Linked DNA regions of Homo sapiens. The protein of the gene in region 1 purifies or fractionates together with the protein of each later gene. This does not show direct contact. Each region holds a gene or a part of one and is shown on either strand. Other genes may lie near its edges.

Region 1 (5,488 bases):
ACACCTTACATATTTGCACCGTCTAATAATAGCTGTCATTTGTGGTTGAGTGTCAAAACTAGATTAGGCATTGCATGTATGTATTTATTCCTTAGAGCAACCTATGAAATAGACATTATTAGCATCACCCCTTTATCTGAAAGGTAAAATTTAACTGAAAATTTTATGGTCTAAGTCCATAGCCTTTCTCACCATATGCTATCCCCTCCCTACTCACCACCACCTTGTAAGTTTTCTTACCTTAGAATAAGAATGCTTGTTCTGAAGATTTGGGAGGTAGAAAGTGAATCTACATACATGGCAGGAGAAGATAGCTGTTCCATCTGCACTTGGGCTCTTCCTTTTGTTCATTTCCCAGAGCATTTTACACTGTATCATTCAGGAGATGCCCAGGAAAATATCTGGGTCTGTGGTTAAATGAGTTTAGGGAAAAATACCTCATATCTTCATTACTGATTTATGGTAGATTTTTATATTAAAGGCAGAGAAGTCCTGCAGAAGAGAAATGTGTTTTGGCTGTTTTGAACTTAGCATTTCCTGAAATTATTTCACCACAGAATCTTCTCCTTTCCTCCCATCCCCAGTTGATTTGGTTCCTACAGAGCAACATACTGATTCCTTGCTTGGTAAGAGTGGTTGAAGTCAGGTTTCAGGCTCTCTTCTACCAGTAGCTCAAATTCATCAGTGTTAGGGGTCATCTGACTGACTCTTCACCCGATTACAGACTGAGGCCTACTGACATGGAGTCTGTTTTCCCTTTGGGATTGTTTCAAGAGTCTTCTCTCCAGTCGTCAGGACCTGGGGAACAGAACAGATGACTCCACGTGGGAACTTTATCCAGATTCTCTGACTGACTGAAACAGCTAGATAGTTCATTCTTTCTTGACTTTAATGCTGACTTCAAAATAGAAAAGGATATTGCACATATACAGTATCCTTCTACTTGGCAGTTTGTGCAAACTGGTGGAATACCTTTTCCTAAGAGTAGACCAGGCTGGGTGTGTTGGCTTATGCCTGTAATCCCAGCACTCTGGGAGGCTGAGGCAGGTGGATCACTTGAGATCAGGAGTTCAAGACCAGCATAGGCAACATGGTGAAACACCATCTCCACCAAAAACAAAAAATTAGCCGGGAGTGGTGGCATGTGCCTGTAGTCCCCAGGTACTCAGGAGGCCGAGGCAGGAGAATCGCTTGAACCCATGAGAAAGAGGTTGCAGTGAGCCAAGATCATGCCACTGCACTCCAGCCTGGGCAAGAGAGTGAGGCTCCATCTCAAAAAAATAAAAAATAAAAGTAGACCAGATGCACGAGTAGGAGCTTTGTGTGAGTTCTGAGCATGTAGAGCGAGTAGAGGGCAGATGTCCATCTAGGCTCTTGGCAAGCCTGGTTCCCAGCAGGGAGTGGTAAGAGTTCAGAAATGATGTCAGGGCAGTAAGAGACTGTATTTGTACCATCATGCCTTACCTATTCAGACATCCTTCTCTTTCCTTTTCAGTCAGTGGTGCCGAAGACCAAAACGGTATGTAGTTGTTTCTGTTTGGGAATGGGCTTAGGCCCTTTTGTCCTTCCCCTCCTTCAACCCCAATCCCTTTAGTAATCTAAGAATTCTGAGCATTTGAGCCCCCAGAGAGAGGGTGTGTGGGAAACTCACTGAGACCCAGGGGGCCTCTCACCATCTTTAGAAATTCTCTCTGCTCGCTGTGCAGGAAGCAGAGTGGAGCATACGTAGGGGCGGACTGACTGATGTGCATGTCCCTGGGCTACCTGAGCTCATAAGCCAACATTTGTAAAACACTGAAACAGAGGAGGGGTGGCATGTATCACACTCAGCTCATTTTTTAAAATCTTGGTGTTTTCAGTTCTGGTCTGGGTAGGGAGGGTCTCTGTGTACACCTTCTGGGGAATCAGGGTGTTTAGCAGCTTCTGGTACTAACCAAAAAGAAAGGGTGGTGACCTGAGACAGCCCTGTTTGTACAGGGCTGGTAATGGTTAGAGCTACTCTGGAGCTAACACATGTGCTACTCTCTGGGCACAAGCTATATATCTCAGCTCAGCTGCCACTCACTTAAAGACCACCACTGGGCCCTCAGGTACTCCCAGAACACACTGCAGAACTCCTGACCATCTGTGGGGACATTCTAAAATATGCTATGTGTTTTCAAAAGCCTCAAGGGTATATGGTTGTGAACTCCCTTCCAAGAGAGAACGTTCTAAGAGTAGTGTTGGACTAGCCTGCAGCATTTTAAAACTTATTTCAGAAGATTTCCCAAATTTATTTAGTAAAATGGCCTTTTGCTCAGAATGGGCAATTTTATGTCTGATTACTTCTAATCAGACATAAAAAACAGTTGAGCTTTTCTCAATTCCCCAAAACCATTTGGAGTTCTAGACCCACCTCCACCCTCCAACCCCCCAGCATCACCGGTACCAAGATCAGGCTGATCTACTTGGTGCTTCCTTTCTTTTTCTGATTCCCTGGGAGAATGCTGACAACTGAGTTAATGTGTTTGTTGTTACTTCTGAGAGAATGAGTAACTGAAAATTATAAATTATTCCCATTCATCTTAGGTATTTGTATAGTCTCCAAACCTCTGTTAGGACCAACAGCACCTCAAAAGAGGCAAATGGGTTTCACTCCCTTTCACACCCAGCCTACCTCCTAGGGGGAAGTATTTCTTGACTTTTTAATAGTCCAGAAAAGAGAAAGTATAGATGCAATAAGGGAGAATTCCTCTATGGGTTGGCCAACCCCCAGATGGTAGAGGTGACTTCTGTGAGATCAGTTCCTTTTTATGGGTACCTACTTCAGGCTACAATTTAAGACATATTGGAGATGGCTGGGCTTTTGAACATTATTTTTTCTGTTTGGGTCAGCTCTACTAGGATACTGGTCATGCCCACTATATTCTGCTAGTGACACAAGCCAGTTAGCATTTATTGAGAACCCTGTGCACTCAGCAGTTGATACTGTCTGGATAGTTTCTACTCTTAGGGCAGTTAGGCAGAAGGCCATTCTAGAGCAGGAGCTGTGGGGCCAGCCTGCCTGGGTTTGAATCCTGGCTCCTCGACTTAGCAGCTTTGTGCCCTTGGGCAAGCCACTTAACTTTTTTGCCCCAGTTGGCCTCATCTATAAAATGAAAATAACAAGAGGTCCTACTTTATAGTTTTTGTGAGGCTTCAGTGAGTTAACACATGCAAAGCTTTCAGGACCCTGCCTGGCACACGGTAAGCATTCAGTAAATGTGGGATGTTGTCATTCCCTTGGGAAGATGTTCATTCATCAGACATTTAGAGTACCTACCATATAACTGGCATTGGGGGCTTCAAAGATGAATATCTAACCTTGGAGCATGGAATAAATGCTAAGCATATAATTGTAAAAATTGATTGAATATGTTGAATTAAAGAGCTCATAGTCTACTCTGGGAGTAAGTAGGCAAACTCAAAATTTTAATCCAATGTGATAAGCAGTCATGGGGGTATAAAAAAGTTTTGTGGGGGTAGAAAGAGGGAGCAGTAATCTCTGCCAAGTTTCTCCACCAGGAAGTTTCCTCAGGAAACCTGGGAGTAGTTTGTGAGATAGCAGAGGGGTCCCCCATGATCCCTGACTTTATTAAATGGAGGATATGTTTATAGATAAAGCCTTGTGATCCTTAATGAACCATTCATCACAGTTCCATTTCTATCTAAACTTTTCTGAACCAGTTTTATCTTTTTAGCCTGTTCTGCCTCAGGGGATAATGAGTCCCTACGTGCCACTCACACACTCACTATATTACAGCCCCAACAGTCTGAAAATTATTTCTTTTAAGCTTTGAGAACTTTGCCTTAGTTCTCATGTTCTGGGATGTGTCTGATCCACAAGTGCTGTGTACTTTTCAAATCTTTACCTGTTGGAGGGGATGAAGTGTGGATTAAACAAGTAACCAGAGTTGGTTATTGAGGAAATGTTTCCTCGGAGGAGCTCTATTTGAGGGAAGCATGTGCACTGAGACTTTGTTTACAATGTACCTGTTATCTCCCACCTCCCTCCCCCAGTCACCCCTATACACTTAAGACATTCTCCTCACTCCTCTGCCCCTTTTTTTCTGCCCTGTGTGTTTGTACAGGGGGAGCAGTACCATCAGGCTTGGAGGAGAACCTGTGTAAGATCTGCATGGACTCACCCATTGACTGTGTTCTTCTGGAGTGTGGCCACATGGTAACCTGTACCAAGTGTGGCAAGCGCATGAATGAATGTCCCATCTGCCGGCAGTATGTAATCCGAGCTGTGCATGTCTTCCGGTCCTGAGAGCTTGCATCGGTTTCTTCAGTGCCTTACAGGGAAATAGCCTGGGGTGTCTGGGCTCAGGGTTGGCCAGCTTGCAGAGGAGCAAGCTAGTAGAAATATTGCAGGGTTCCCAAAACCAGGTCAAGCAAGATGCCATGTCACCCCTGAGCATGCCTGTCTTCCCAGGGGTGTACCTCTTGGCTGGCAAAGCCCAAGGCCAGTGGGAACTTGTATAAATCACATGGGTATGTTCTTGGTTCAGTGATCTTGGAGTGATGATGGTAACTGATGAACAGAGAACTTTCCAGAACTTGGGTCCTGTCTTCCTCCCTGAACCTAGACAGTTTCACCCCTCCTCCTGTACCCAACCCATCCCCACCCCATATGGGAGATGCTTGCCCATGTGTTTCATCAATCAGAAGTCCTCCTCCCCAGCACATTCGGATTTAAATTTCTGGTCTCTCCGGCTTTCTGTGCTTTAACTATCTTTGCTAAAGTCTCTTGCTACATTGCCTAAATCCATTTGTTTCTTTGGACCAAAAATGTTAGTTTACCAGACCGATAGTGGTCCTTAGGACAGATTTTAGACCAGTAAACTTATCTTTGGTGAGAAATGAAATACAAATGCTATAGAAAAATTTCAAAGTTGTTAAAAGCCACTTCATTAAATGCTGGGATTGGAAGCTGTTGGTCTCCTGACCTGACTCTGGGAGCCAACAAAACATCAGGCTCCCAAACTGCTGGGAAATTTGTTTCTGTCTGCAAGGGATAGTGCGTGCATAATCCCTGCTGCTGCTTCTCTTGGGACCTGATTTGCACCATCCTTAGTTTATGCGGAAAGGGGAAGCAATGGGTGGAGGCAGTGGCCTTCTCCTTAATTTTGGCTTGGCTTCTGATCCTTTTCCCAACTAGAAGTCTTAAGCCACTTTTCGCTGAAAATGAAATCCCTCCCTTATCCATGGTAGTTTTAAATTTGGTTTCATTGAAGAAATAGATTTAGGCAAAGAGCCTGTGCTCTTCTCTGGCCAGACTGCTGTTGAAGTTCCTGGAGAGCAAATGTTAAGACAGAGCACTTAAGAGCTTTCAGGAGGTACTGAATGAGACTGGATTCTGTTGTAAGCCGACAGTTCAAGTCTTTATTTCCCAGGTTGGTGGGGAGTGAGGAGACCCTACTTTCATTCCCTTTCCTAGCCCACTGATTTTTGGGGGCAGGTCAGG
Region 2 (3,500 bases), on another chromosome or scaffold:
TCGCTATGTTGGCCAGGCTGGTCTCGAACTCCTGACCTCAGGTGATCCGCCTACCTCGGCCTCCCAAAGTGCTGGGATTACAGGCGTGAGCCACTGTGCCCAGCCAATGAGTCTTGAGAGTGACTTACTTTCATTCTGAAATGATTTAGACGGTGGAAGTTCCTTATCCCCTCCCCAGATCCAGCCAGCCAGAGGCCTGCTTTGAAGGGAAAAGAGGTGCTTGAGTCAGGGACCTTTCAAACTCTGTCCTTTAGAGTTTCTTAGCTCTGCAAGCATTCATTTCTTGGGGATATAAAGTGGAGATGATAATAAGGGCAACCATGTCATAGGGTTGTCAGGAAGATGAGCTAATCCCATTCCCAAGCTAATCCAGGAAGCACAGGTACCACTGGGCTGCTACAGAGGGAACCCTTAGTCAGTGGCAGCCTTGAGAAATCCAGTCTGAGGAATAAGACCGGGGGGAGCAGGGCTAGGGAGCAGGACTGATTCCCTGAGGACTTGTCCCAGTTCTGACTGGTGACCTGTGGCTTCCTACCTCTTGGCTCTCGTCTGTAATCTTGCTACTCAAAGCATGGCACATGAACCAGCAGAATTGGCATCATTCAAGAGCTTATCAGAAAGATAGTCTCTTGGTTGGGTGTAGTGACTCATGCCTGTAATCCCAGCACTTTGGGAGACCAAGGCAGACAGATTGTTTCAGTTCAGAGACCAAGCTGGGCAGCATGGCAAAACCCCATCTCTACAAAAAATACAAAAAAAAAAAAAATAGCTGGGCATGGTGGCACATGCCTTTAGTCTCAGCTACTCAGGAGGCTGACGTGGGAGGATCACCTGAGCCTGGGAGTTGGAGGCTTCAGTGAGCTATGATCGTGCCACTGCACTCCAGCCTGTCATCACAGAGTGAGACACTGTCTCAAAAATAACAACAACACAACAACAACAAAAGACAGACGCTCAGCCCCTCCCCAGACCTGCTGAATCAGAATCTGCATTTTGATAAGATCCCCGGTCATCTGTGTGCTGCTAAATTTGGGAAGTACTAGTCTGAGGGGTAACCCCCACACTTACTCTGAGACAAGCATTCTGCCAAGTCTTTTCCATTCATTGTCTCACTGAAACAACCCTCTGACGTAGGGACTCTAATGACCCTCTTTTTCCAGTGAGGAAATTGAGGCTCAAAGAGTTGGTGTGTCTTGGCCAAGGTCACCCATCTAGTGAGGAGCAAAGCCAAGAGGAGAAACTGCGGCCTCTACCCTATTCCTGAAACTCAAAAGATGGTAATACAGGGTGATGAGAGACACTCGCGATTCAAATGGGAGCGTTCTAAGACCTCTTAAACCCAAATTTATAAAAGTAGAATTGTGGTCGGGTGCGGTGGCTCACACCTGTAATCCCAGCACTTTGGGAGGCCTAGGCGGGTGGATCGGCTGAGGTCAGGAGTTCGAGACCAGCCTGACCAATATGGTGAAACCCCCGTCTCTACTAAAAATACAAAAATTAACTGGACGTGGTGGCGTGCGCCTGTACTCCCAGCTACTCAGTAGGCTGAGACAGGAGAATTGCTTGAAGCTGGGGGAATTGCTTGAATCTGGGAGGCAGAGGTTGCAGTGAACTGAGATTGTACCACTGGACTCCAGCCTAGGTGACAGAGCAAGACTCCGTCTCAAAAAAAGGAAAAAAAAAAGTGGAATTGTTTGCTCAGGCTCCCAGGGTTCTCTTGAATAATATTTTAGTTTGAGGGACAATAAATTTAACTTTTGTTAAATTTATTTAGGAGCTTTCTCTTGAGGGCCATTTTTTATGGGGCAAAAGTTGTTTTATTTCAAAAGTTTCAGGCTTAGCTGTGTTGAAGAAGACCAGCTGTTCCAGCCTGGGCAACACAGTGAGACCCTCTCAAAAACAACAACATCAACAAAAAAAGACCAGTCCCACCGGGGTACACATTCTGGGTGGTCACTGGAATGATTTGCCAAGTGACTTTCTCTAGTCTCATAATGCCCACCATTCACATTCCTGTTCCACCAAAACCCATATCATTCGATGTCAGTGACCTTCAGGATAGTCTAGGAAGAACCCAAATAGTGAATTTGCCCTGAGTTTATACTAATGTGTTCCGTGATCCATCCTGCAGAAAACTCCTGGAAGGTGAAGAGTGTCGGATTGGCTTTGGCCCAATTCCTTTCTCGCTTCCAGAAGGACTCCCCAAAATTCCCTCTGTGTCCACTCACATAAAGGTGAAAAGCGAAGAGAAGATCAAAGTGGTGGAGAAGTCTGAGAAAGAAACTGTGATTGTGGAGGAACAGACAGAGGAGACCCAAGTGACTGAAGAAGTGACTGAAGAAGAGGAGAAAGAGGCCAAAGAGGAGGAGGGCAAGGAGGAAGAAGGGGGTGAAGAAGAGGAGGCAGAAGGGGGAGAAGAAGAAACAAAGTCTCCCCCAGCAGAAGAGGCTGCATCCCCAGAGAAGGAAGCCAAGTCACCAGTAAAGGAAGAGGCAAAGTCACCGGCTGAGGCCAAGTCCCCAGAGAAGGAGGAAGCAAAATCCCCAGCCGAAGTCAAGTCCCCTGAGAAGGCCAAGTCTCCAGCAAAGGAAGAGGCAAAGTCACCGCCTGAGGCCAAGTCCCCAGAGAAGGAGGAAGCAAAATCTCCAGCTGAGGTCAAGTCCCCCGAGAAGGCCAAGTCCCCAGCAAAGGAAGAGGCAAAGTCACCGGCTGAGGCCAAGTCTCCAGAGAAGGCCAAGTCCCCAGTGAAGGAAGAAGCAAAGTCACCGGCTGAGGCCAAGTCCCCAGTGAAGGAAGAAGCAAAATCTCCAGCTGAGGTCAAGTCCCCGGAAAAGGCCAAGTCTCCAACGAAGGAGGAAGCAAAGTCCCCTGAGAAGGCCAAGTCCCCAGAGAAGGAAGAGGCCAAGTCCCCTGAGAAGGCCAAGTCCCCAGTGAAGGCAGAAGCAAAGTCCCCTGAGAAGGCCAAGTCCCCAGTGAAGGCAGAAGCAAAGTCCCCTGAGAAGGCCAAGTCCCCAGTGAAGGAAGAAGCAAAGTCCCCTGAGAAGGCCAAGTCCCCAGTGAAGGAAGAAGCAAAGTCCCCTGAGAAGGCCAAGTCCCCAGTGAAGGAAGAAGCAAAGACCCCCGAGAAGGCCAAGTCCCCAGTGAAGGAAGAAGCTAAGTCCCCAGAGAAGGCCAAGTCCCCAGAGAAGGCCAAGACTCTTGATGTGAAGTCTCCAGAAGCCAAGACTCCAGCGAAGGAGGAAGCAAGGTCCCCTGCAGACAAATTCCCTGAAAAGGCCAAAAGCCCTGTCAAGGAGGAGGTCAAGTCCCCAGAGAAGGCGAAATCTCCCCTGAAGGAGGATGCCAAGGCCCCTGAGAAGGAGATCCCAAAAAAGGAAGAGGTGAAGTCCCCAGTGAAGGAGGAGGAGAAGCCCCAGGAGGTGAAAGTCAAAGAGCCCCCAAAGAAGGCAGAGGAAGAGAAAGCCCCTGCCACACCAAAAACAGAGGAGAAGAAGGACAGC

The links. The genes of interacting proteins can lie anywhere in the genome.
Region 2: the proteins of RFFL (region 1) and NEFH purify together in Homo sapiens (affinity purification with mass spectrometry, with the first as the bait; one large-scale study listed by BioGRID). This does not show direct contact.

The regions. Positions count from the first base shown.
Region 1 is NC_000017.11:35,010,771-35,016,258, reverse strand, and holds part of RFFL (E3 ubiquitin-protein ligase rififylin), read left to right. Parts: intron 1-1,495; coding exon 1,496-1,519; intron 1,520-4,109; coding exon 4,110-4,291; 3' UTR 4,292-5,488.
Region 2 is NC_000022.11:29,486,718-29,490,217, forward strand, and holds part of NEFH (neurofilament heavy polypeptide), read left to right. Parts: intron 1-2,131; coding exon 2,132-3,500. UniProt on the Homo sapiens protein: Neurofilaments usually contain three intermediate filament proteins: NEFL, NEFM, and NEFH which are involved in the maintenance of neuronal caliber. NEFH has an important function in mature axons that is not subserved by the two smaller NF proteins.